Regions from separate parts of the Homo sapiens genome. Here all the other regions are linked to region 1. The links come from fine-mapping of genetic effects on plasma protein levels. Region 1 holds a variant in brackets. A gene starts in each other region. All regions are shown on their forward strands.

Evidence for each region. PIP is the posterior inclusion probability: the model's chance that the variant is causal. Protein levels are from antibody-based Olink assays in UK Biobank. Linkage for the fine-mapping came from a reference panel and not from the study's own genotypes, which makes the PIPs less certain.
Region 2: it holds the start of CD300A, and the variant in region 1 is fine-mapped to the plasma level of the CD300A protein (UK Biobank, PIP 0.96).
Region 3: IL12RB1 starts here. The variant in region 1 is fine-mapped to the plasma level of the IL12RB1 protein (UK Biobank, PIP above 0.99).
Region 4: it holds the start of HAVCR2, and the variant in region 1 is fine-mapped to the plasma level of the HAVCR2 protein (UK Biobank, PIP above 0.99).

The regions. Positions count from the first base shown.
Region 1 is chr11:60,381,441-60,387,725 of GRCh38, forward strand. MS4A7 (membrane spanning 4-domains A7) reads left to right here. Exons shown (of 7, transcript NM_021201.5): 2 at 1,689-1,848; 3 at 3,648-3,782; 4 at 5,277-5,333. The coding sequence starts at 1,702. Among named protein-coding and RNA genes, the nearest start is that of MS4A7, 6.1 kb to the left of the region's middle. The variant G/A (reference allele first, on the strand shown) is at 3,671.
Region 2 is chr17:74,463,566-74,469,610 of GRCh38, forward strand. CD300A (CD300a molecule) reads left to right here and starts at 3,069. Exons shown (of 7, transcript NM_007261.4): 1 at 3,069-3,178. The coding sequence starts at 3,139. It overlaps LOC124904056 (a long non-coding RNA gene), which reads right to left and starts at 4,209. Exons shown (of 2, transcript XR_007065899.1): 1 at 3,985-4,209; 2 at 443-1,185. RefSeq lists silencers at 3,561-3,620, 3,661-3,720 and an enhancer at 4,081-4,210.
Region 3 is chr19:18,084,503-18,089,502 of GRCh38, forward strand. It overlaps IL12RB1 (interleukin 12 receptor subunit beta 1), which reads right to left and starts at 2,432. Exons shown (of 17, transcript NM_005535.3): 1 at 2,258-2,432. The coding sequence starts at 2,321. RefSeq lists enhancers at 2,344-2,693, 2,704-2,763.
Region 4 is chr5:157,107,502-157,113,786 of GRCh38, forward strand. HAVCR2 (hepatitis A virus cellular receptor 2) reads right to left here and starts at 1,543. Exons shown (of 7, transcript NM_032782.5): 1 at 1,425-1,543. The coding sequence starts at 1,482. RefSeq lists an enhancer at 1,330-1,479.

The sequences.
Region 1 (6,285 bases):
AAATGGAGGTCCAAACATGGATCGACTATTATGGAACACCTGATAAAACTCAGAGAGTTACAACAAAAGACACTCACGTGTGTCATTCAAATCCTCACAAGAGTCCTTCAGGATAGTGTCATTATCCTTATTTTACAGATAAGGAAACTGGGGATGAATGAGGGAAAGTATCCTGCCTACGGCCAGCTCATCAATATCAGAACTGGGCTTCCAATGAATATTAGATAAAACTGATATGTTTTGGGAGTTTATCACATGCCTCCCCCTATGCTGAGTCCATTATATGTGTCATCTTATCCAACCTGTACCACAAACCTATGAAGTGGTGAAAATACCTTGCCCAGGGTGAGTTTAGCAGTAACTGGTGGATATGGGATCTGAACACACGACTGGACTCCAAGACATATGGTCAGATGTGCAACTAGATGCCTAGGCATTGGACTCCCATCCCAGTGCACTTTTCCATCTCCCTCACTAGGAAGAGATTCTAGGTGTCATTTCCAATTTTTACATGTTCTTCACTCCACCCAAGAGAGGCCAGAACCATTCCTAAAGCACCAACACATTGAGGCAAAATGTCAGGCAGCAGAGCTGTGGCACCTTTCAAGGATGACAAGCCTTTAACTAAACTCTGGCCTTCAGTAGGGAGAATGTTGAGCTGAAAACAAATCTGGGCAACATTTCAGGTGCTGAGCCTTGTTGCTGACACCACAGAGGCCCAGCAATGCTGCTGAGTTAGTGGTGGCAGACAACTTGCTCCTGGAATCTACAAGGGAACTGGAAATGTTAGGAAGGAAGAAAGGAAGGAAGAGGAAGAGGAGGAGAATTAACATGGCATAGAGAAAAAAATATCACAAGCGTCTGAGCCAGACAAGTCTCAATCCAGTCATGTAAACACAGGCTGTTAATATTTGCTACCATATATTGAACACATTCTAAGTGCCAGGCTAAGTACTTTATGTGACTATTTCATTCAATAAAAGTCACTTGAGCTTATTAGCCCCAGGTTTCTAATGTATAAAATTGATTTAATAACATGTAAGTTACAGGGTTGTTATAAGGATTAGAGCTGCAATGGTCTAATGCTTGGAATTCAGCAGGAGTTAAGTAAATGTTTACATTACTAATTACGAAGCCAATATAAGCAAGGAGGAAGATTCCGGATGGGACAGGCCATCTCGCTATAGGAAAGGAAAGTGGAACAGCATTCATCCTCAACATTTTTACGAAGACAAAATGAAGACTGGAGTAGAAGACTGATCAGTGCAGGTGTAGCATAAAAGTGTAATCCTGGAAGATGTGGTGTGAGAAGGTAGCACAAGTGAAGCAGAGATACAGGAGATAGGGAAGGGAAGCTGGAAGCAGAGGTCACTGGAGGGAGAGGGAGATGGACACATTCAGGGCTACAAAGCAAGTTCTATGTGATTTGCTCACCTCTCAATTGTGGGACCCCTCAAAATGTGTACAGTACTCTCCCAGTGACATGCTTCTTGACCACAATGGATGAACTGTGCCCAGCATGCCCACTTTCCAATGCTCCACTGATCCCCATGTTTTGTTTCTGAAGGACAACCAGCCTTGGAATAATGGCAAATACCTTCTTAAGTTCCTACAAAGTATGGTCCCTGGGAAGTTTATGTCTGTAAGTCAAACCTTGGGAAGTAACTGAGTTTTGATGCCTCTTCCAGCATCATCAGCATCATGCTATTACAATCCCAAACCATGGGGGTTTCTCACAGCTTTACACCAAAGGGCATCACTATCCCTCAAAGAGAGAAACCTGGACACATGTACCAAAACGAAGATTACCTGCAGAACGGGCTGCCAACAGAAACCACCGTTCTTGGGGTAAGTCCACCTCATTATAAGGGGAATACTGAGAAAATACTTTGTAAATGTATCTAGACTACAGATCTACAGTGGGTCTGGGAAACTCTTTCACTCTTTTCTGGCTGACTCCAGGCTAATGAGGACATGAAATGGAGCTTTAAGGGAAGACTCTTAAAGCTCTGCAGCAGTTTCTAGAAACTAAAACCACTAGATCTTTTTCACTAGCATGCTTCACAATTAACAGGTTAGTCTTTCTTATTTTATTTATTTATATATTTATTTATTTTGAGACAGAATCTCCCTCTGTCACCCAGCATGGAGTGCAGTGGCACGATCTCAGCTCACTGCAACCTCCGCCTCCTGGGTTCAAGTGATTCTTCTGCCTCAGCCTCCCGAGTAGCTGGGACTATGGGTGCACGCCACCACGCCCGGCTAATTTTTGTATTCTTAGTAGAGATGGGGTTTCACCATACTGGCCAGGCTGGTCTTGAACTCCTGACCTTGTGATCTGCCCGCCTTGGCCTCCCAAAGTGCTGGGATTACAGGCATGAGCCACTGTGCCCAGCCACAAATTAGTCTTTCTTATTTTGTCATTAGTACAGTAAAAATTTTCTATTTAACCATATGGATTTTACTCAATATGATTAAATTAACTTTGAGCTTATTTTTCAAATATTTTGAGATGAGACGATCAAGACTAATCTCATGACCCATTTTTCCCCGTTCATATGAGTAACTATAAGACATCCAAGTGTCCCAGATCATCATCCCTCATATCCAGAACTTTAATCTCCATGTGGTTTTGAATACCCTCTTATAATACCCAGGTCCTATTCACTGCCTATTTAGATGGATCTCCCTGCCCTGTTTCTTTACAATCTATTCTTAGTACAGCAGGTAGGGTACTCTTTTAAAAATGAAAGTTAGATCATGTATTCTCCTGGCTCAAAATTATCCAGTGGGATTCCTTTTTTGCTCAAAATGAAAAGCAAAGTTGGTAAAACATAGCCTAAAAATCCCTACATAGTTTGTACCATGCCTCCAGTACTTCACAAGCCTCATGTCCTACTACTTTGCTCTTAACTCTATTCTGCCTTGCATGGAACTTGTCTGTACCTTTACAGACAAGACATAGTACACATATAAGCTCTCCAATGGTAGTGATTTTCATTTGCTTCATTCCCTCGTGCCTGGCACACAACATACCTGTTGTGGTATTCAATAACTGTTGATGATGTGAATGGTTGACTTCTTTTTTTATTTCTCCTATGTTTGCATCATCTTTCAATTGCACATGCATTAAACTATGAGCAAAAGCATGGGCTTTAGAGCAAGCTAACAGCTAAACTTCAGTTCTTCCACTTGCGAAATAATTATTATTAAAATCCAATGATGAACAAAATAAGATGAATTACAGCAGAAGAGATGACCTGCTCTATCTAATTTCAACTGAAAAATCTCTTCATTAACACTCCTGTGAAAAGTTTGCTCTCTATTTCCACCTCACTGGACAACTTTTTTATCTACTTTTCAAGAAAATAAATTTAAAAACTGTCAAGTATCTTTTTCAAAAAAAGTTAAAATGTGTGTATGATCACTTTCCGATTTGCTGGTTTAATAATCCTATCAGAAAAGAAGAGGTTAGCTATACATGACTTTCTCTAGAAGCATATCGATTGGCTCCTTGTAACATTTTTCCTCTTTAATATAACAAATTATAATGTATTTTATACTCTTTATACTTTACCGTGTGCATTCAAATAATCACTTTTATCTGTTTGAAGTGCAGTCTAGATTTCCTGTCTTCTCTCTTGTAGACTGTCCAGATCCTGTGTTGCCT[G/A]TTGATTTCAAGTCTGGGGGCCATCTTGGTTTTTGCTCCCTACCCCTCCCACTTCAATCCAGCAATTTCCACCACTTTGATGTCTGGGTACCCATTTTTAGGAGCTCTGTGTGTGAGTAGAATGGGGACTCTAAGAGGGGACATGCTTTATAAATGCTAACCAGGTGCATAGTCGTGGAGTGACTCAGACTCCAAGAGGCCAGGAGGCAAAAGGCGGCAAGGCCTCGACTTTCCTTCTATCATTGCCCCACGTCACATTTCCCCTATTCAAGAAGAGCAGCAGAGAGACTTAATCTGTCTTCCTGCAGAGCAGGGGGCAAGAGGGAATGGTAATACAATGGGTATACCAGCACAGAATTTCTTACCTGGCATTACAGCATACCTCTAGAAAAGTGGATGATTTTCCATATCCCTCTTTGAGGCTTTGATGAGGCCATTGGATTCCCTCCATTGTAAGAATAATCAACTTTTCAGGTAGAGAGTGAGAAGGCCATTTTTAAACAATAAAACGAGCACCACTGGTTGATGCCACAGGTTTGCAGAGATTTGGATTAACAAGGGTAAGATTCATGGGAGGCAGGGACATGCTTGCTGTGTGTCCAGAGGTAACCCTGAGCACTAGAGAAACTCTCTTTGCTGCCTTCCACCTAATGGCTCATGAAAAAGGGCCCAGTAGATCCATTTTTCAGAGAGTGGCCAGGGCAGACTCACACTTCCCACAAAGGGTTATTTCTTCTCCACGTAGTATTTGGTACAAAGGATAAAAATCAAATATTCTGGGCAAATGAACTATACTAAGGTACCACTTCTGTGTGGATACAGTCCCTGTGTGAACACAAACTGTGCAGTCACATAAGGAGGCCCTGGTCCTGCCCCAGAGCACAATTTGTCCTTGACTTCTCCTGTAACCAGTGGTTGTGGGCCCCACATCTCCTTAGAGAAGCTAGCGTTAGCTCATACTGGACCCTCTTTGCCTGTGATTATTCAATATCCAAGCCACACACTTAAGCAACTTTTCAGCTTCTCAGAATACCCTTCCTCTGCCAGCTGGATCTTTAATACCACTGAGATTAAATACTGATTTCTGGGGCTTTATGATAAAGACTTCACGTCTGAGCCTGCTCTTCCCACTTTCCTCGACTCCCATTCTGACTCAAGCAACATACACCAATAACTTCCAGTCCATGTGTTTCTGCACCTTGTCCCATCAGAGCCTCTTTCCTGAGTGCTTCTGTTGGCTGTTCCAATCTCTCTGTCCATTCAAGTCATTGGTCCATCTCAACCTCCTCTCTTTCAACCCTGTAATTTAGTAACACTCTTCTCCTTCCCAGGTACACCTTTTCTCCAGGCCTCCTCAGTTCCTAGTGATTTCCACTAAAACAAATCCAACCCCTCTGTGCATCTGCATGTCATTCAAAGTCAATATAGACATTCTTATATCAGGTGGGAATTAGGCCTATCTAGCAATATAGATCCACAAGATTTCTGCAGTGTTCTCTCCCTAAAAGTTTTCCAACATCACTTTTTGATTGAGTGATTGACAGTGACATGGTGGGCACATTTCCACAAGACAACTGAACTGATCATTTCTCTCTCTTCTGGGCAGTTTGGCATTACTGGATCCCTCTCAATTATCTCTGGAAAACAATCAACTAAGCCCTTTGTAAGTATAAGGACCATCAAATCTCAGCTGGTTGGAATTGAAGGAACGTCAGAGTTAATTCTTCTAGTTTAAAAATCCCTATTTTACAATTTAGAGAGAAAAAGCTTAGAACAGGCTAGGAAGCCCAGGTTTTCCTGGCTGTCCCATTGGTAGAACCAAGAGTAGAGCCCAAATTTCTTGCCTTCTAGACCAGTGCTCTTTCGTCTACACAATGTTGCTCCTGGATTATATTCCAAGCTTGGAGGAGGTTTACCTCAGTTATTTAAAAAGTGTACATTTTTAAATGTACCATGGACTCTTTATAGCTTGTAACCTTGACCTTGAATAAGGTAGCCACCCATCCCAGAGAGAGCCTACAGATCCTTTTTTCTATAAAACCTGCCTCTTGGGGTTCTTTTTGATGCCAAATGTCCCCATTCATAGAGTTGGGACTTCACACAAATTCTAGCCCTTCAGCGTCAGGGTGACCAATTGTTTGGTTTTCCCAGGACTGTCTCAGTTTTAGCCCAGAAAGCCTATATCCTGGGAAACCCCTTACTCCCCAGGCAAAGCAGAATAACTGGTTTACCCTACTCTGTGACCGTGGTAACAAGTTGAAAGAAGTCCATGATATATTTTCAAAGTTCTACTATTTAAGCAACTGAAATAAACTTCTTTCAGTCAAATATCAGGTGGGGAGGCATTCATTCCCCTGTCAGAAGAGGGTGTTGCCGTCTTCATCCAGGCTGGAGGAGACTATTTCCATCCAAAGACTCATGCTTGATAATTGGATGTTTGAGAAAAAAAATCAGTTTAAAGTAAGGTGGGAGAAAATGAGGGTGATGGAGTAGGGGTGAGGGGGATGTCTGCAATGTCAGCACTGATTGCAGCACCAAACTCAAAGACAATACCACTCATGCCACTGCCAACATACCCCTGGCTTCCTCAACAACTTTAGAATTATTATATTGCC
Region 2 (6,045 bases), not on the chromosome of region 1:
ATCAGAAGTTTTGTGGCTGCTGTGGGACCACTTCTCACCCTCACCCCTGGGAAATGGGCCTCAGCCCTGTGGCCTCATCTCCTCCTCCCCCTGAGTCATGTCACCTGATGGTTATCGGGACACAGCCGGAATGTGCAACTTCCGGCAAAAAACTCTCATGTTTTGTGGTTATTTTGCACCATTTTGTTTCTTCCTTTGGGTTTGTGGACAGGATGGGGTGAGCAGGATGGGCGTGGCAGGGTCTAAGTCCCCTGATCCCTTCTCCTTTGCAGTAAGTCAGGTGTTTCTCTATGTGCCTAAGGAGAATTGCATCCCATAGATTAAAGTGTAAAGCGCACTTCCTGTGGAATCCAATTTTCCTATTACCTTTCATCAAAAGTAGAGATATATTCCCTCAGAAAAAACTGACCTGAGGATGTTAAGGAACACTGACATTTCAGTATTTGTATAATCATAATAATATTTATTCCCACAGAGGAGCTGTCATTATTGACGTTTTACAGAAGCCACAGGCTTTGCTCAAGTTCATTCGGTGGTAAGTGGACAAGCCACGCCAGAACTTAGCCTTCTGCTTCTCTGTCTGGCCTGGACGTTCAAGATTGCAGCAGCGCCTTTTTGGTCATGGTTGAATCAAAAAATAATTTTTGAGAAACTTTGCAATGATCAGGCCACATAAGCCACCGAATATGACACATCTCCTGCATTTTTATGTTCAGCTCAACAGTGTCATGATCCAAAGTGTCTTGGATCTTTTTTTTTTTGAGACGGAGTCTTGCTCTTGTCACCCAGGCTGGGGTGCAATGGCACGATCTTGGCTCACCGCAACCTTTGCCTCTCGAGTTCAAGCGATTCTCCTGCCTCAGCCTCCCGAGTAGCTGGGATTGCAGGTGCCCGCCACATTTTTTTTATTTTTAGTAGAGACAGGGTTTTGCCACGTTGGCCCGGCTGGTCTCGAACTCCTGACCTCGTGATCCGCCTGCCTCGGCCTCCCAAAGTGCTGGGATTACAGGAGTGAGCCACCGCGCCCGGCCCGAAGTGTCTTGGATCTTAATGAGGTTTAGTTAATCTATGACTGCATCATCATGAAAATTTCCACAATGTCCACCAGGCTTTGTCATTGAATCTTCCAGCAGCAGAGCCCATAGGTCTCCTTGGCTTCCTGACACCTTCGTGGGCAAGGCGCCCCTGTGTTCAGAAGGAAGAGGAAAGTGACAAATTCCAAAAAGGGCCAGAGGGAAGGATATTCTTGGGATCCCATAGCTGGCACAGGGCTCCATGTGGGTGGACACTCTGAGCTTGGGGACTGCAAGCTCCCAGGTGACGCATTACACATTAGGAGTGGCATTTCCTGTGCCCACCTGGTCATTCTGTGCAAGCTGGGGCACCTACTCAAGGCACGTGTGTGAGACTGTGTGTGTGTGAGTGTATGTCACTGTGTGTGAATGTGTCAGTGTGTGAGTTTGTGTGTGAATGTGTGAGTGTATTTCAGTTGTATATGTAAGTGCGTTGTGTGAATTTGAGTGTTTCAATGTGTGAATGTGTATGTGTGTTTGTATCAGTGTGTGTGAATTTGTGTTTGTGTGTGAATGTGAGTTTGTGAATGTGTGTGGGTGAGAGTGCCTGTGTGTTTGTGTGTGTGTATATGTGTGTGTGCATGAACGTGTGTTTGTGAATGTGTGCGTATGTGTGTGTTTGTGAATGTGTGTGGGTGTGTGAATGTGTTTGTGTGAGTGTATGTGTGTGGGTGTGTGTGAATGTGTGTGTATGTGAGTGTGTTTGGGTGAGTGTGTGTGTATGTGAGAGTGTGAGTGTGTTTGTGTGTGTTTGTGTGTGGGTGTGTGAATGTTTGTGTGTGTGTGTGTATGTGCATGAACGTGTTTGTGAATGTGTGTATGTGTTTGTGTGTACGTGTGTGTATGTGTTTGTGAAAGTGTTTGTGAATGTGTGTGTGAGTGTGTATATGTGAGTGTATGTGCATGAACGTGTTTGTTTGTGAATGTGTTTGTGTGTATGTGTGAGTGTGAATGTGTGGGTGTGTGTGAATATGTGTGCATGTGAGTGTGTATGTGAGTGTGTGTTTGTGAATGTGTGTGGGTGTGTGAATGTGTGTTTGTGTGTATGCGAGTGTGTTTGTGAATGTGTGGGTGTGTTTGTGTGTTTGTGAATGTGTGTGGCTGAGTGTGTTTGTGTGTGTTTGTGAATGTGTGTGGGTGAGTGTTTGTGTGAGTGTGTATGTGAGTGTGTTTGTGAATGTGTGTGGGTGAGTGTGTTTGTGTGAGTGTGTATGTGAGTGTGTGTTTGTGAATGTGTGTGGGTGAGTGTGAGTGTGTGTATGTGAGTGTGTGTTTGTGAATGTGTGTGGGTGAGTGTGTGTGGGTGTGAGTGTGTATGTGAGTGTGAGCGTGTGTGTGTTTAGAGTCTGCACTCTGTGTGGATCAGGAAAGGGGTCCTTGCAGGCTCGCTGAGTCCCTGCTCTGTGCCCAGCCCCGAGTTGGCTCCAATGGGGCTATATAGAAAGGAAGGCATGGCCGGAGGACCTCTGTGTCAAGTTGAGGACACATTTCCAAGACTAGGAACCATTCAGGGACTCTGGAGTCACGATGACAACTCCCCTTCCCTCAGCCCCGAAGCCCAGGCCTGGACCTCCAAGGGACTCAGGGAAGGGACTCAGGAAAGGGGAGTTCCCCCTGGCAGCCTCCTCGTGGGCACCACCGAGGGTGAGAGGAGCCAGCTCAGCGGGTCCCACCCCCAGGGTTGCCCACCTTGACCACAAGGAAAGGAGGGAGGAGTTATTGGGCCTTCCACTAGGAGGAGACCCGGGGAAGTGAGAGTCGGGGATCAGTCCTGCAAGCTACGGAGTCACTACAGGGAGAGGTCTCATCACTAGAAATAGCCGAAGAACCTGCAGCCTCAACCAGCGTTAAGGAGGACGTGCCGTTTCTAGGGAGTCTTAGTCGGGGCTCACCAGCTTCCTGCATTTTCTGACCGGCTCCAGGAATAGAACCAAAAGAAGCTGAACAAGGAAGCAGCGCGGCACCAAGAAAAGCAGAAGTCGGGGCCTTGGAGGCGTGACTTTCCCCTCGGGTCCAGGTAGGGCCTGGAGCTGCTGCAAGTGCCGCCTGTGCTGGGGAAGGGACCATGTGGCTGCCTTGGGCTCTGTTGCTTCTCTGGGTCCCAGGTGAGAGTTTCCCTTCCCGGGAAAGTCTGCGGCAGGGAGGGAGGGTGCGAGGGGCAGGGCCGCAGGGCAGGTATCACACGAGACGCCCCGAGTCTGGACTCCGTGCAGAACGCAGAATGCGGTGCGCTCTGTCTACCACATAAGATGGACAGATGAAGGTCCACACCCCTGGGAGAGGAAGGAGCCAGGGCCTCTCCCGGCTCTGCACCCACGTACCTTGGCTGAACCACAGCGGGGCAAGTGATAAGGGGTGGGTGCAGAAAAGGGACCTTTTAGGTTTTCAGTTGAATTCTTACAGGAAGGGGGACGAGAGGCAGGATGTGTCAGGGTGGGTGGAGAGTGGCAGCCACTGACTGCGAGGGGCATGTGGTGAGGGTGGGGGAGATGCCGGGCTCACTGGGTGCAGGGTATGGAGGAGGGGGGTGTGGGGAGGGTGGGGGAGATGCCGGCCTCACTAGGTGCAGGGTACGGAGGAGGGGGTGGGGCGGTGAGGGAGATAGGGTCGGGGTGGGGAGCAGATCGATAGTCTCTGGAATGCGGAGATTTAACCAGGGCAGCCCAGCGGCTGGGGCCTGAGCAGGGGGAAGTCCCGAGGCAGCCTTGGCTGGGGTTAGCCCCTGCATGGGCCTGAGAACCAGGGGTCAGTCCTCTCCAAGAAGGGGATATGGGACAGAGGGGACAGAAAAGGTGGTGGGGAGGGCGAGGAGGGAAAAGATCGGGCAGAGAAGCGCTGAGATCTTCTTTAGGGAGAAGCGTGGAGTTGAGTCTTCCCTGTCCAAGCGCAGGGATTCCTCCCGCAGAGTCACCTGCTGTGCCTTCAGTCACGTCCACCGCTCTCCTCAGACAGCTCCTGTGCAGACTCCTCAGGCCTAGTCCTAGGGTATTGTACGTCTTTGTGGTTGCTTTCCTTACAGATCGGAGGTTTTCTGCAATTATATTTGCTAACTACTTGTCTGTGGGAAGGTTATTACTTTTGGTGTCTTGACTTGGAAACGGGTCATCCTCCCATAACAGGTGCTCCTGCGATTCTCTTGGGTGTTCTTCTGTTTCATAGGGTCGGTGTGCATGGGAAGGTTTCAGTTCCTGTCTAATATCTGTTTCTCTTTCTCCCATTGACTCATTGGCTGGTACAGCCGGAGTGAGGCCCAGCGGACATAGTGGTAGTGGTTGTCCCTGCCTTGTTGCTGACTCAGGGAAAAAGGACCAGAGCTTCTCATTATTAGGAAGAAGGGATCCACCAATGACTATTCACAAAGCATTTTTACTTTTATTTATTTATTTATTTATTTATTTATTTATTTATTTTTTGAGATGGAGTTTTGCTCTTGTTGCCCAGGCTGGAGTGCAGTGGCGCGATCTTGGCTCACTGCAACCTACGCCTCCCAGGTTCAAGTGATTCTCCTGCCTCAGCCTCCCGAGTAGCTGAGATTACAGGCATGTACCACCATGCCTGGTTAATTTTGTATTTTTAGTAGAGATGGGCTTTCTCCATGTTGGTCAGGCTGGTCTCAAACTCCCAACCTCAGGTGATCCACTCACCTTGGCCTCCCAAAGTGCTGGGATTGCAGGCGTGAGCCACCAAGCCTGGCCAACATTTTTATTTTTTTGAGACAGGGTCTCCCTCCGTCACCCAAACTGGAGTGCGGTGGTGCAATCACGGTTCACTGTAGCCTCCACCTCCCGGGCTCAAGTGATCCTCCCACCTCAACCTCCCCAGTAGCTGAGACTACAGGTGTGTGCCACCACACCCAGCTGGATTCTTAATTTTTTTTAGGGACAGGGTCTTACCATGTTGCCCAGGCTGGCCTCCACCTCCTGGGATCAAGGGATCCTCCCATCTTGTCCTCCCAAAATGCAGGGATTACAGGCATGAACCACCACACCTGGCCCCTACAAAACATTTTTTATTTTATTTTTATTTATTTTTTTGGAGACAGAATCTCACTCTATCACCCAGGGCTGGAGTGCAGTGGCTTGATCTCAGCTCACTGCAACCTCCGCCTCCCGGGTTCAAGTGATTCTCCTGCCTCAGCCTCTTGAATAACTGGGCTTACAGGCACCCACCACCACTGCTGGCTAATTTTTTTGTATTTTAGTAGAGACGGGGTTTCACCATGTTGCCCAAGGTGGTCTCGAACTCCTGAGCTCAGGCAATCTGCCAGCCTTGGCCTCCGGCCCCCACAAAATACCATTTTTATTATTTATAGAAATTATTATTATTATTATCCTTTCAGCTATGAAGGAGGTGAACTACATTAGGAGATCTGGTCAGATGTTTGTCTTGATTTATTATGCTGGCTTCATGGAAAGAATTAGGGAGATCTCCCTGTTTCCGTGTTCTCTGCAAATGTTTACATAAAATTGAAATTATTTGTTCCTTGAAGTTTTTAGAGAACTAGCTTGTAAAACTGTCTGAGTTTTGCTTCTTTTTTTTTGATGGAAGGGAAAGAATTTCTTAATAACACTCATCATTTTTGGTCTACATTAAAAAAAATCTAGCTGGGTGCAGTGGCTCACACCTGTAATCCCAGAATTTTAGGAGGTTGAGGTGGGAGGATAGCTTAAGCCCAGGAGTCCGAGACTGGCCTGGGCAGTATAGCAAGCAAGACCCCGTCTCTTAAAAAAAAAAAAAGTCTATTCTTGGCCTACATTGATGATTTATATTTTCCTAAAAAATCATCAGTGTCGCCCAGGTTTGCAGACTTATTTGCAGAGATTTGCAAATTTTTCTTTTGAATTTTATATCTGCGTCTTCTTTATTTTTGGTCTGACTACCTACTAGTCTAATTAATTGTTTGAGGCCAGGCACGTTGGCTCACGCCTGTAATCCCAGCACTTTGGGAGGCCAAGGCGGGTGGATCACTTGA
Region 3 (5,000 bases), not on the chromosome of region 1:
TATCCATGCATCCATGCATTCATTAATCCATTATCCATTCACCCAACCATCCATCTATCCATCTAGTCACCAATCTATCCATCTATCCATCCACGTATTCATTCATCCATACACCCACCCATCCATCCATTTATCTACCTACCGATATATCCATCCAGCCATCCATCCATCCATCCATCCATCCATCCATCCATCCATACATACATACATGTATTTATTAATTCATCCATCCATTCATTTACCCACCCATCCACCTGTCTATCCATTCATCCACCACCCTTTAGTCCTCAGAGGTTGAGATGCATATTTGGGAGACACTCTCGGGAGGTACCCCTGCAGGAAAGAACAGTAAGACCAACAGTCTGGAGGGCAGAGAGAAGTGGAGGTGTGCCTGGGGTGGCACCAGTGTCTGAAGCCAGCATGGGGAAAGACAGTAGAGGGTGCATGGCAGGGAGAGGCCTGCCAGGGCTGGCCCAGGCAAGCACACTTGGCCCACTAGCAGTCAGGGCAATTATTAATAACATTTCTCCAGGAGGCAGCGACCTCCCTCAGCCACTGGGATCCCCGTGCCCTTTGGGATTGCCACAGTCTGCTAGGTGTGGAACTGGGTGAGAGAAGGAGGGGGATGCCACCATGGATGGGTCAGGAAGACCCCGGCGCCCTCACTCCCACAAGAAGGACCTGTCCTGAGCCCTGCAGGCAGATTGGAAGCCTTGGGGGAGAAGGCGGCACCCCAGGAAACAGCCCCAAGTGTCCAACCTTGAGGGGGGAAAGATGCTTAACACACAAGGCTCTCCATCCTTCCATCTCTCTCTGTGATGACACAGAACCCCCACCCACCCACCCACCCCTGAGAGCCTAAAGCCCATCCTCCTTCCCTTTCCCTGGACTGACCACTCACTGCCACTATCTCCAGGATACCTCGTGGGCTGCCTCTCGCCCCCTCCCTGCTGCTGGTCTCCAGCCATGCCTGGCCCCTGAAGGCGCTGGGACCTTGAGGTGTGGCCAGCACTGCTGTGGGCATTCTACAGGCACTCAGTGCATCTCAAGAGCCATTGAAAAAGTCAGCACCCCGCTGATCCCCAGTGTACAGAGAAGGAAAGTTTATTTATTATTATTATTATTGAGATAGAGTCTTGCTCTGCCACACAGGCTGGAATGCAGTGCTGCAATCTCGGCTCACTGCAACCTCTGCCTCCTGGGTTCAAGCGATCCTCCCACCTCAGCTCCTAAGTAGCTGGGAGTACAGGTGCCCATCATCAAGCCTGGCTAATTTTTGCATTTTTAGTAGAGATGGGGTTTCACCATGTTAGCCAGGCTGGTCTCGAACTCCTGACCTCAAGTGATCCACCCATCTTGGCCTCCCATAGTGCTGGATTTTCAGGAGTGAGTCACCGTGCAGGGCCTGAGATTATTAAAAGTATATGGGAAGGCTGGGCATGGTGGCTCATGCCTGTAATCTGAGCACTTTGGGAGGCCAAGGTGAGTGGATCATTTGAGCCCAGGAGTTCGAGACCAGCCTGGGCAACACAGCGAGACGCTGTCTCTGTAAAAAGTATACACCAAAAAAATTAACCAGGCATGGTAGTGTGCACCTGCAGTCCCAGCTACTCAAGGGGCTAAGGCAGGAGGATCACTTGAGCCCAGGTGGTCAAGGCTGCAATGAGTTATGATTAGGCCACTGCACTCCAGCCTGGGACACAGAGTGAGACCCTACCTCAGTAAATAAATAAATAAATAAATAAATAAATAAATAAATAAATAAATAAGTAAAGTATACGGAAGGATGTGCATAGGTTATATGCAAATACTTTACCATTTTATATCAGGAACTTGAGCATCTTTGGATTTTGGTATCTGCAGAGGGTCCTGGAACCATTGCCCCGTAAATATGGAAATGACTGTATACATTATATTATGTATGTCTATCTATTGTAAACTACATACATAAGATACTATACTATGTATACCTATTAGATACATACTTGCTTTTTATTCCTTCCTTAGTTTTTTTTCTCATTGAACTCCGGGAGGTGGAAAAAATTTAGTGCATTTCACAGAAGAGAAAATCTAGACCAGAGGAAAGATGTCTAAGTTCGATCCCAGAAGCCATGACTGCCCATCTCCCATTTGACAGCAGGAAAGACTGAGGCACAGAGAGATGAAACCAACCCACACAGCAGGCCCACAGCTCTCCACACATACACGTGCCTCCACCCAGCAAGAGGAGCCGCCATGCCAGGGTCAGGGGACTCACCGCCCTGCCTGGACAGCAGGAAGAGGAAGAGGAGGGGGACCACCCAGGTCACCAGCGGCTCCATCGGATCCACGTAGAGCCCCACAGCCCCAGGGGAGCCTCTCTGCCACCTGCGAGGTTCAGCCACCCCGTCCCCACTCCGGAACACATTGAAGCTGAGCAAGGAGAAAAGACTGAAAAAAAAGAAAAAAGAAAAAAAGTAAAGTGTCACAGCCCATCCCTAAGGCAAGTCAAAGTGAAAGAGAAACCCAGGAAGTCAGCTCCGTGGTGGTGGTGATGGTGGCGGCCACAGACTCTGGAGCAAGTCTGACTTTGGAGCAAGTCAGGGTTCTAGGGGGTTCTGCCCTGCTGGCCCCAGACCTGAACTGAACACCCAGATGCCAGCCCCATGGGCCCATGGGCCACCTGTGGTTCCATGCACTTGGCCAGGTCTCTGGCCCTCTCTAGCCAATTTTTTTTTTTTTTTTTGAGATGGAGCCCTGCTCTGTCGCCCGGGCTGGAGTGTGGTGGCATGATCTCCACTCACTGCAACTTCTGCCTCCCGGGTTCAAGCAATTCTCCTGCCTCAGCCTCCCGAGTAGCTGGAATTACAGGCAACTGCCACAACATCGAGCTAATTTTTGTATTTTTAGTAGAGACAGGGTTTCACCATGCTGGCCAGGCTGGTCTCGAACTCCTAACCCTAAGTGATCCACCCACCTCAGCCTCCCAAAGTGCTGGGATGACAGGCGTGAGCTACCGTGCCTGGCTGCCAAATTCTTTTTTTCTTCTTTTGAGATAGGGTCTTGATCTGTGGCCCAGCTGTAGTGCAGTGGTGCAATCACGGCTCACTGCAACATCAACCTCCCCAGGCTCAGGCCATCCTCCTACCTCAGCCTCCCCAGGAACTGGGACTACAGGCATGCACCACCACGCCCAGCTAATTTTTGCATTTTTTTTTTTTTAAGAGAGGGGGTTTTGCCATGTTGCCCAGGCTGGTCTCAAACTCCCGGGTTCAAATGATCCGTCCGCCTTGGCCTACCAAAATTCTGGGATCACAGGCGTGAGCCACCGCACCGGGCCATCTCGCCAGCTTCTGAATCTGAGACTCAAGAGCTGAAGGAGGGCAGTGTTCTTGGATGGCCTAATTTCATCCTTCCAACAAATTGTTACAAAGAGCTTGCAGCATGCTGGCCCTCCACAATGCCCACCTCCCCACATGCCAAGCTCCAGCCTTGTGCACCTGGGCTCACCCCTCTAATCCCAGCACTTTGAGAGGTCGAGGTGGGAGGATCACTTGACCCCAGGAGTTTGGGTCTACCTAAACAACATAGCAAGACCCCATCTCTATAAAAAATAAAGAATTAGGCCAGGCGCGGTGGCTCACGCCTGTAATCCCAGTACTTTGGGAGGCCAAGGCAGGTGGATCACGAGGTCAGGAGTTTGAGACCAGCCTGACCAAAATGGTGAAACCCTGTCTCTACTGAAAATACAAAAATTAACCGGGTGTGGTGGCAGGCACCTGTAATCCCAGCTACTGAGGAGGCTGAGGCAGGAGAATCGCTTGAACCCAGGAGGTGGAGGTTGCAGTGAGCCGAGATCGCGCCACTGCACTCCAGCCTGGGCAACAGAGTGACACTCCATCTCAAAATATATATATATATATAAATTAAAAGTTAGCCAGTCGTGGTGGCACACATCTGTATTCTCAGCTACTCAGGAGGCTGAGGTGGGAGAATGGCTTGAACCCAGGAGGTTGAGGCTGCAGTGAATCGTGATTGTGCCACTGCACTCCAGTCTGGGTAACAGAGCAAGATCCTGTCTCTTAAAAAAAAAAAAAAAAAAATTTAAGAGATGCAACTTAGTCTTTCCCCCATGTTCCATTTCTTAGCCTCTGAGTATTTTGTTTCCTGCCCCTCCCTCCCCACTGTCGGCAAAGCCTCTAAATGTCAGTGGAGAAGCTCTGATCCAAGCTACCATGTGGATGAACCCTCAAAAACATAATGCTGGGCTGGGTGCAGTGGTTCACATCTGTAATTCCAACACTTTGGGAGGCCGAGGTGGGCGGATCACCTGAGGTCAGGAGTTTGAGACCAGCCTGGCCAACAAGGCGAAACCCTGTCTCTACTAAAAATACAAAAATTTGCCAGGCCTGGTGACATGTGCCTGTAATTCCAGCTATTCGGGAGGCTGAGGCAGAGAGAATTACTTGAACCTGGGAGGTAGAGGTTGCAGTGAGCTGAGATCGTGCCACTGCACTCCAGCCTGGGTGACAGAGTGAGACTCCATCTCAAAAAAAAAAAAACACACATACACAAAAAAAAAAACCCATCATGCTGGGTGGACGAAGATGGACAGGAAAGGCACACACTGTATGATTCCACTTATATAAAATATCCAAAATAGGCAAATGTACAGAGGCAGACAGTAGCTGAGTGGTTGTCAGGGGCTGGGGGGAGGCGGGAGTGAGAAGTGACTGCTGATGTATGCGGGGTTTCCTTTTGGGGTGATGCAAATGTTCTGGAACCAGATAGAGGTGGTGGTTGCACAACACTGAATGTGCTAAATGTCACTGAATCGTTTGCTTTAAAATGATGAATTTCCGGCCCGGGCGCGGTGGCTCACTCCTGCAATCCCAGCACTTGGGAGGCCGAGCCAGGTGGATCATTTGAGGTCAGGAGTTCGAGACCAGCCTGGACAACACAGTGAAACCCAGTCTCTACTAAAAATACAAAAATTAGCTGGGCGTGATGGCATGCACCTG
Region 4 (6,285 bases), not on the chromosome of region 1:
GTGTATTTGAAACTACTCATGGAGTTGTTTTAAGGTTTAAAGTTGTGAAAAGAAATTAAATTTTGGGACCCCAAACTCATTCAGTCAAAGGGAAAAGTCAAGCTGGGAACTGGGTCACAGAAACCTGCCTCCTCTTTTTGATTCCTGAATAAGATGGCTACAGGATGAAAGGCTGCATACCTCCCCCATATTTTGCCCACAAGGAAATTCCTGGTCAGCTGTGCAATGCAGATTGATAGCTCATCTTTACCGGTGCGGTCACCCTGGCCAGACACAAATGCGTTATCTGATTGTTTCCCTACCCCATTTTGTCTGTGTTATCTAATGTAAAATGCAGATTCCCCATATTTTTCCTCTGCCCCCCCCCCTTTTTTATGTGAAAACTGAGTGCTTCTCAATATCCCACCTTGTCCCCTTTAAATCTGGAGCCCTCAAAATCATCTTCTGAGAAAGTCATAGACCTGTCTCTCAGGTGCCTCCTTAACTTTGGCAAACAAATCTCCTAAAATGATTGAGACTTGTCTCCTCATTTTCCTCAAATGACAAAGTTAATTCCATTAAAAAAAAACTATATATATTTTATATATGATAAAACATTCATTATATATTTTCTTTTGATTTTTTATGTCCCCTTTGTTTTCATATGACTCAACTACAGTAAAAACATTCAAACACTATCAAAGGTGTATGAAAAAGTGGCCGGGCACACGGTGGGTCACGCCTGTAATCCCAGCACTTTGGGAGGCTGAGATGGGCAGATTACTTGAGGCCATGAGTTTGAGACCAGCCTGACCAACATGGTAAAACCCTGTCTCTACTAAAAATTAAAAACATTAGCTGGGTGTGGTGGTGCACGCCTGTGATCCCAGCTACTCCGGTGCCTAAGGCAGGAGAATCACTTGAACCTGGGAGGCGGAGATTGCAGTGAGCCAAAATGGTGCCACCACTGCACTCCAGCCTGGGCAATAGAGTGAGACTCCATCTCAATTGAAAAAAAGAAAAAGAAAGAAAAGAAAAAGAAAAAAAGGAAAGAAAAGAAAAGAAAAATATGCCTTACTCTCCCAACTCTTTACCATTCCCTGGTTCCTTTTCCTAGAGCTTATACATTAAGAAATGTCCACATATTCCTGCTCCCCGACAATGCACACACACAAATAGAAGCCTAATATATGCATTATTCTGCAACTTTTTTTCTTTAATAACATTATAATTTTGAGACATTCTATACCAGTATGTTTTGTCAGACTCACTGTTTGTATCATGATTATATCACATTTATTTACCCACTCCCTCATCGACGGACATTTAGGTTGCTTCCAAGCTTTTGCTATTACAAACAACATTACAATGGCCATCCTTGTATCTCTCCCTTGTCCTCTGTACAGCACCATTATGTCATTGTAAATATCCATGCCGAGACTTACTTGTAAGTAGTAGCAGCAGCAGCAGCAGGACACAGTCAAAGGGAAGATGTGAAAACATGGAGCTTGCAGAAGAAAAGTCAGAGGACACCTCTGTTAGGCACAGTTTTAACTCTCCAAATGGACTGGGTACTTCTTCCAACTGTCTACTCCACAATCACATGAGCAGTAGCCGCCCCCACTGAGTGCTAGCTCAGCACACCCGGGTGTCTGATTGCCAGTGATTCTTATAGTAACACTGCCAGGTCTACAGTCACATTAAAGGAAACCAAAGTTCTCTGTCATGCCACACTACACACATCCTGTAAGTGTTCTGATGTCTGTCCTGTGATATCAACAAAGAGGAAGCAATACTTCAGTGGAAGAAAACGCTACTCAGTCATGGCACATAAAGAGAACCCTCTAATAATGTCTCAGATGAGATACACCTGAAATGGAGCATGTCCGAGTCCATCTGACTAGCGGGGAACACAAAGTACAGATGCATCATCCATGGATTCATTCACTCAAATCAGTCCCTTCATCAGGCCTGTGACCAAAGTTTATGAAGCCCCTACTTTGCACCAGGCACTGGACTAGGAAGTGGAACACAACAGTGAATGGCATGTTCCTTATCCTCACATTTACAGACCATAGCAACTCCCAGCATAAGCCTCACTCTCATCCTTCTTCTAACACAGATTAGGTTGTATCCTATAACCTTGCTGAGTCTCAGTTTCCTCATTTATATAATTTATAAAATGAGAAAATTGTATTAGATAATACATGCATGGCTCTCTGTTCTAATATTCTGACTTTGACCTTCAAACTTCCAACTCTTCAATTTAGAAAAAACATGTTCCTTTTGGCAACAGTTCCTTTCCTCTACTCTGAGTAGAATTAAGGGGATCTTGGTATCCTGTTTCATCTCATGCATACAAGGTGCCCCCTCTCCCCTACCCCAAGAGGCTTTGGCCATGAATGATCAGAAAGTGTTGAGTTCCAGCCACACTCCCATAACTGAGGTAACAGCTTAGACTCACGTAGCCTCAGCTCTGGGAGTGTGACCTTTATCTGGACACCTTAAAAGCAAAAGCTTTTTTTTATAAAAGGGAAGTGAGCTCACAGGCTGAGTGGTTTCTGAAAAGCCAGTGGCCTTCCTCTATGTCTTGCCTTCCTGAGTTTCTTTGTCATTCACATTTATGCCATTAAATGCATTGGGTATAAATACCAAATTTGTTCAATATAAACAAATGGCATTTAATATAAATATGCAACTTGTTCAATGTGTGTACTTCCCATAGCATTGCAGAGTGGCAGTTACTCAAGAGATCATAATCAATTTCTCATTTTATTTTATTTTATTTTTATTTATTTATTTATTTTTTTGAGATGGAGTTTCGCTCTTTTTGTCCAGGCTGGAGTGCAATGGCATGATCTCGGCTCACTGCAACCTCTGCCTCCCGGGTTCAAGTGATTCTCCTGCCTCAGCCTCCTGAGTAGCTGGGATTACAGGCATGTGCCACCACCCCGGATAATTTTGTATTTTTAGTAGAGACGGGGTTTCTCCATGTTGGTCAGGCTGTTCTTGAACTCCCGACCTCAGGCGATCCACCCGCCTCGGCCTCCCAAAGTGCTGGGTTTACAGGCATAGCCACCGCGCCCGGCCAATTTCTCATTTTATAGACAAGGAATCTGAGACTTCAGAAAATTGATTTGCCGAAAGGCACATGATTGGTGATTTAGAATGAGAGCATAAGCCCCCTAAGTGACAGATTTTTTCCACTATAAATTATGTTTTATTAATTTAATGTTTGTCTTCCCACATAACTAATAACCAGCAAATGACCATATTCAAGCATAAGGTAGAATAGATTAAATATGGGGTCTGGGGTTATTTTTATTAGCAGCATGAACTTGGTCAAGGCTCTTAAAAGCATCAGCCCTCAGTTTCTGTGTTTTGTTTTGTTTTGTTTTTGTTTTTGTTTTGAGACAGAGTCTTGCTCTGTCGCCCAGGCTGGAGTGCAGTGGCGCGATCTCGGCTCACTGCAAACTCCGCCTCCTGTGTTCAAGCAATTCTCCTGTCTCAGCCTCCCAAGTAGCTGGGACTAAGAGCGCACACCACCATGCCCGGCTAATTTTTGTATTTTTAGTAGAGACAGGGTTTCACCATATTGGTCAGGCTGGTCTCGAACTTCTGACCTCAGGTGATCTACCTGCCTCGGCCTCTCAAAATGCTGGGATTACAGGCATGAGCCACCGTGCCCAGCGATGTTTTGTTTTTACCACTTTGTTTTCTGCTCATTTCTAGAATTGCTACTGAGACCAGCTTTATAAAACATTAACAATTTATTAGTTCATTAAAGTCTAGATATGAAGGGGTCTAGAGATCTCCTTTAACTCTCTTGTGTGTGTAGGGAGCTGGTTCTGAACATTTTCATGTTCACTTAACTTTTATTTCCTGTTTATTTTCTTAAAAACTTTAGATAATACATTCAAATAGTTAAAAAGTAAAAGGAATATAAAAAGCTCAAGAAGCCTTGATCCCATGATCCCATCCTTCCATGTTTACCCCCATTTCTCCCACCTATGCTATAGGTTTTCTTTTTTTTTTTTTTTTGACATAGAGTCTCGCCCTGTCACCCAGGCTGGAGTGCAGCGTCACGATCTCAGCTCACTGCAACCTGCGACTCCCAAGTTCAAGCGATTCTCCTGCCTCAGCCTCCTGAGTAGCTGAGATTATAGGCACCTGCCACCGTGCCCAGCTAATTTTTGTATTTTTAGTAGAGATGGGTTTTCACCATGTTGGTCAGGCTGATCTCGAACTCCTGACCTTGCAATCTGCCCACTTCAGCCTCCCAAAGTGCTGGGATTACAGGCTTGAGCCACTGCACCCGACCAGGTTTTCATTTTCATAAGTTTCTTGTGTATACTCCCAATGCAAACCCAAGAAAATAAAATATATATTCTCATACTCTCTTTTCTTAGACAAAATACCATATACCTTTTTTGAAACTTGCATTTTCCTATTGTTATTTGCTGAAATATTTATTTTTAAAATTTTATTTATTTTATTTATTTTATTTTTATTTATTTATTTATTTATTTTTTGAGATGGAGTTTCACTCTTGTCTCTCAGGCTGGAGTGCAATGGTGCTATCTCGGCTTACTGCAACCTCTGCCTCCCCTCAGCCTCCCAAGTAGCTGGGATTATAGGCACCTGTCACCATGCCCGGTTAATTTTTGTATTTTTAGTAGAGACAGGGTTTTACCATGTTGGCCAGGCTGGTCTCAAATTCCTGACCTCAGGTGATCTGCCCGTCCCAGCATTCCAAATTGCTGATTACAGGCAGGAGCCGCCGCACCTGGCCCTTTATTTTTTTTTAAATTTGTTTTAATTTATTTTTAGAGACAAGGGTCTCACTAGGTTACCCAGGCTGGTCTCAAACTCCTGGGCTCAAGGGATCCTCCTGCCTCAGCCTCCCAAAGTGCTGGGATTACAGGTGTGAGCCACCATGCCGAGTCTGCTGAAATATTTTTAAACGAATCCCAGACATCGTGCTATTTCACTTTTACGTACTTTAGTGTGCAATCTTCCTTTTTAAAAAATGGGCATTCTGAAGCCGGGTGTGGTGACTCACGGCTGTAATCCCAGCACTTTGGGAGGCCGAGGCAGGTGGATCACCTGAGGTCAGAAGATCGAGACCAGCCTGGCTAACACGGTGAAAACCCCATCTCTACTAAAAATACAAAAAATTAGCCAGGCATGGTGGTGGGTGCCTGTAATCGCAGCTACTTGGGAGGCTGAGGCAGGAGAATCGCTTGAACCAGGGAGGCAGAGGTTGCAGTGAGCCGAGATTGTGCCACTGCATTCCAGCCTGGACAACAAGCGCAAAATTTCGTCTCAAAACAAACCAACCAACAAACAAAAATGGACATTCTGCTAATATAATCATAATATCATTATCGCACATAACAAATTTAATGATGCCTTAGAAGCACCTAGTACTTCAGTCTATAGCCAAATCTCCCTGATTATCTCAAAAATGTCTTTTTTCAATCAGTTTGTTTAAATCCAGATCCAAACAAGTCCCAGCATTGCATTTGTTTGCTATGTCCCTCAAGTCTCTTTTAATCGAAGACAGTCTGCCCTCCACCCCCTTGCCATTGGTTATACAAACCAGTTATACAAACCAGGTTTTGTCCTGTGAAATGCTCCACATTCAGGGTTTGTCTGTTTCCCTGTGGGGTCATTTACATTATTCCTCTTTTCTTCGAATTTGCTGAAAATGAAAGTTTGCTCTAGAGGTTTAGTTGGAACGTGGTTTGACTTCTTGGCAAAAACACGTCACAGCTGGTGCCTTGTGCTTCACATTTCATCACAATTGTCTGGTTGCTCCACAGCATGCAACCTTCTTTTTTAAATGTATTTAAATTTTTTTTTTTTTTTTTTGAGACGAAGTCTTGCTCCATCACCCAGGTCAGAGCACAATGGTGCAAACTCGGTTCACTGTAAACTCTGCCTCAAGCAGTTCTCCTGCCTCAGCCTCCTGAGTAGCTGGGATTACAAACACGAGCCACCATGCCCAGCAAATTTTTTGTATTTTTAGTAGGGACAAGGTTTCACCATGTTGACCAGGCTGGTCTCGAACTCCTGACCTTAAGTGATCCAACTACCTCGGCCTCCCAAAGTTCTGGGATTACAGGCATGAGCAACCGCGCCCAGCCTAAAATCTTTTGTTTCAGCTCATGTAGAATGTCCTCATTCTTTTTTATTTTTTCGCTCTGTCCCCAGGCTGGAGTGCAATGGCGCGATCTCGGCTCACTGCAAGCTCTGCCTCCCAGATTCATGCCATTCTCCAGCCTCAGCCTCCCGAGTAGCTGG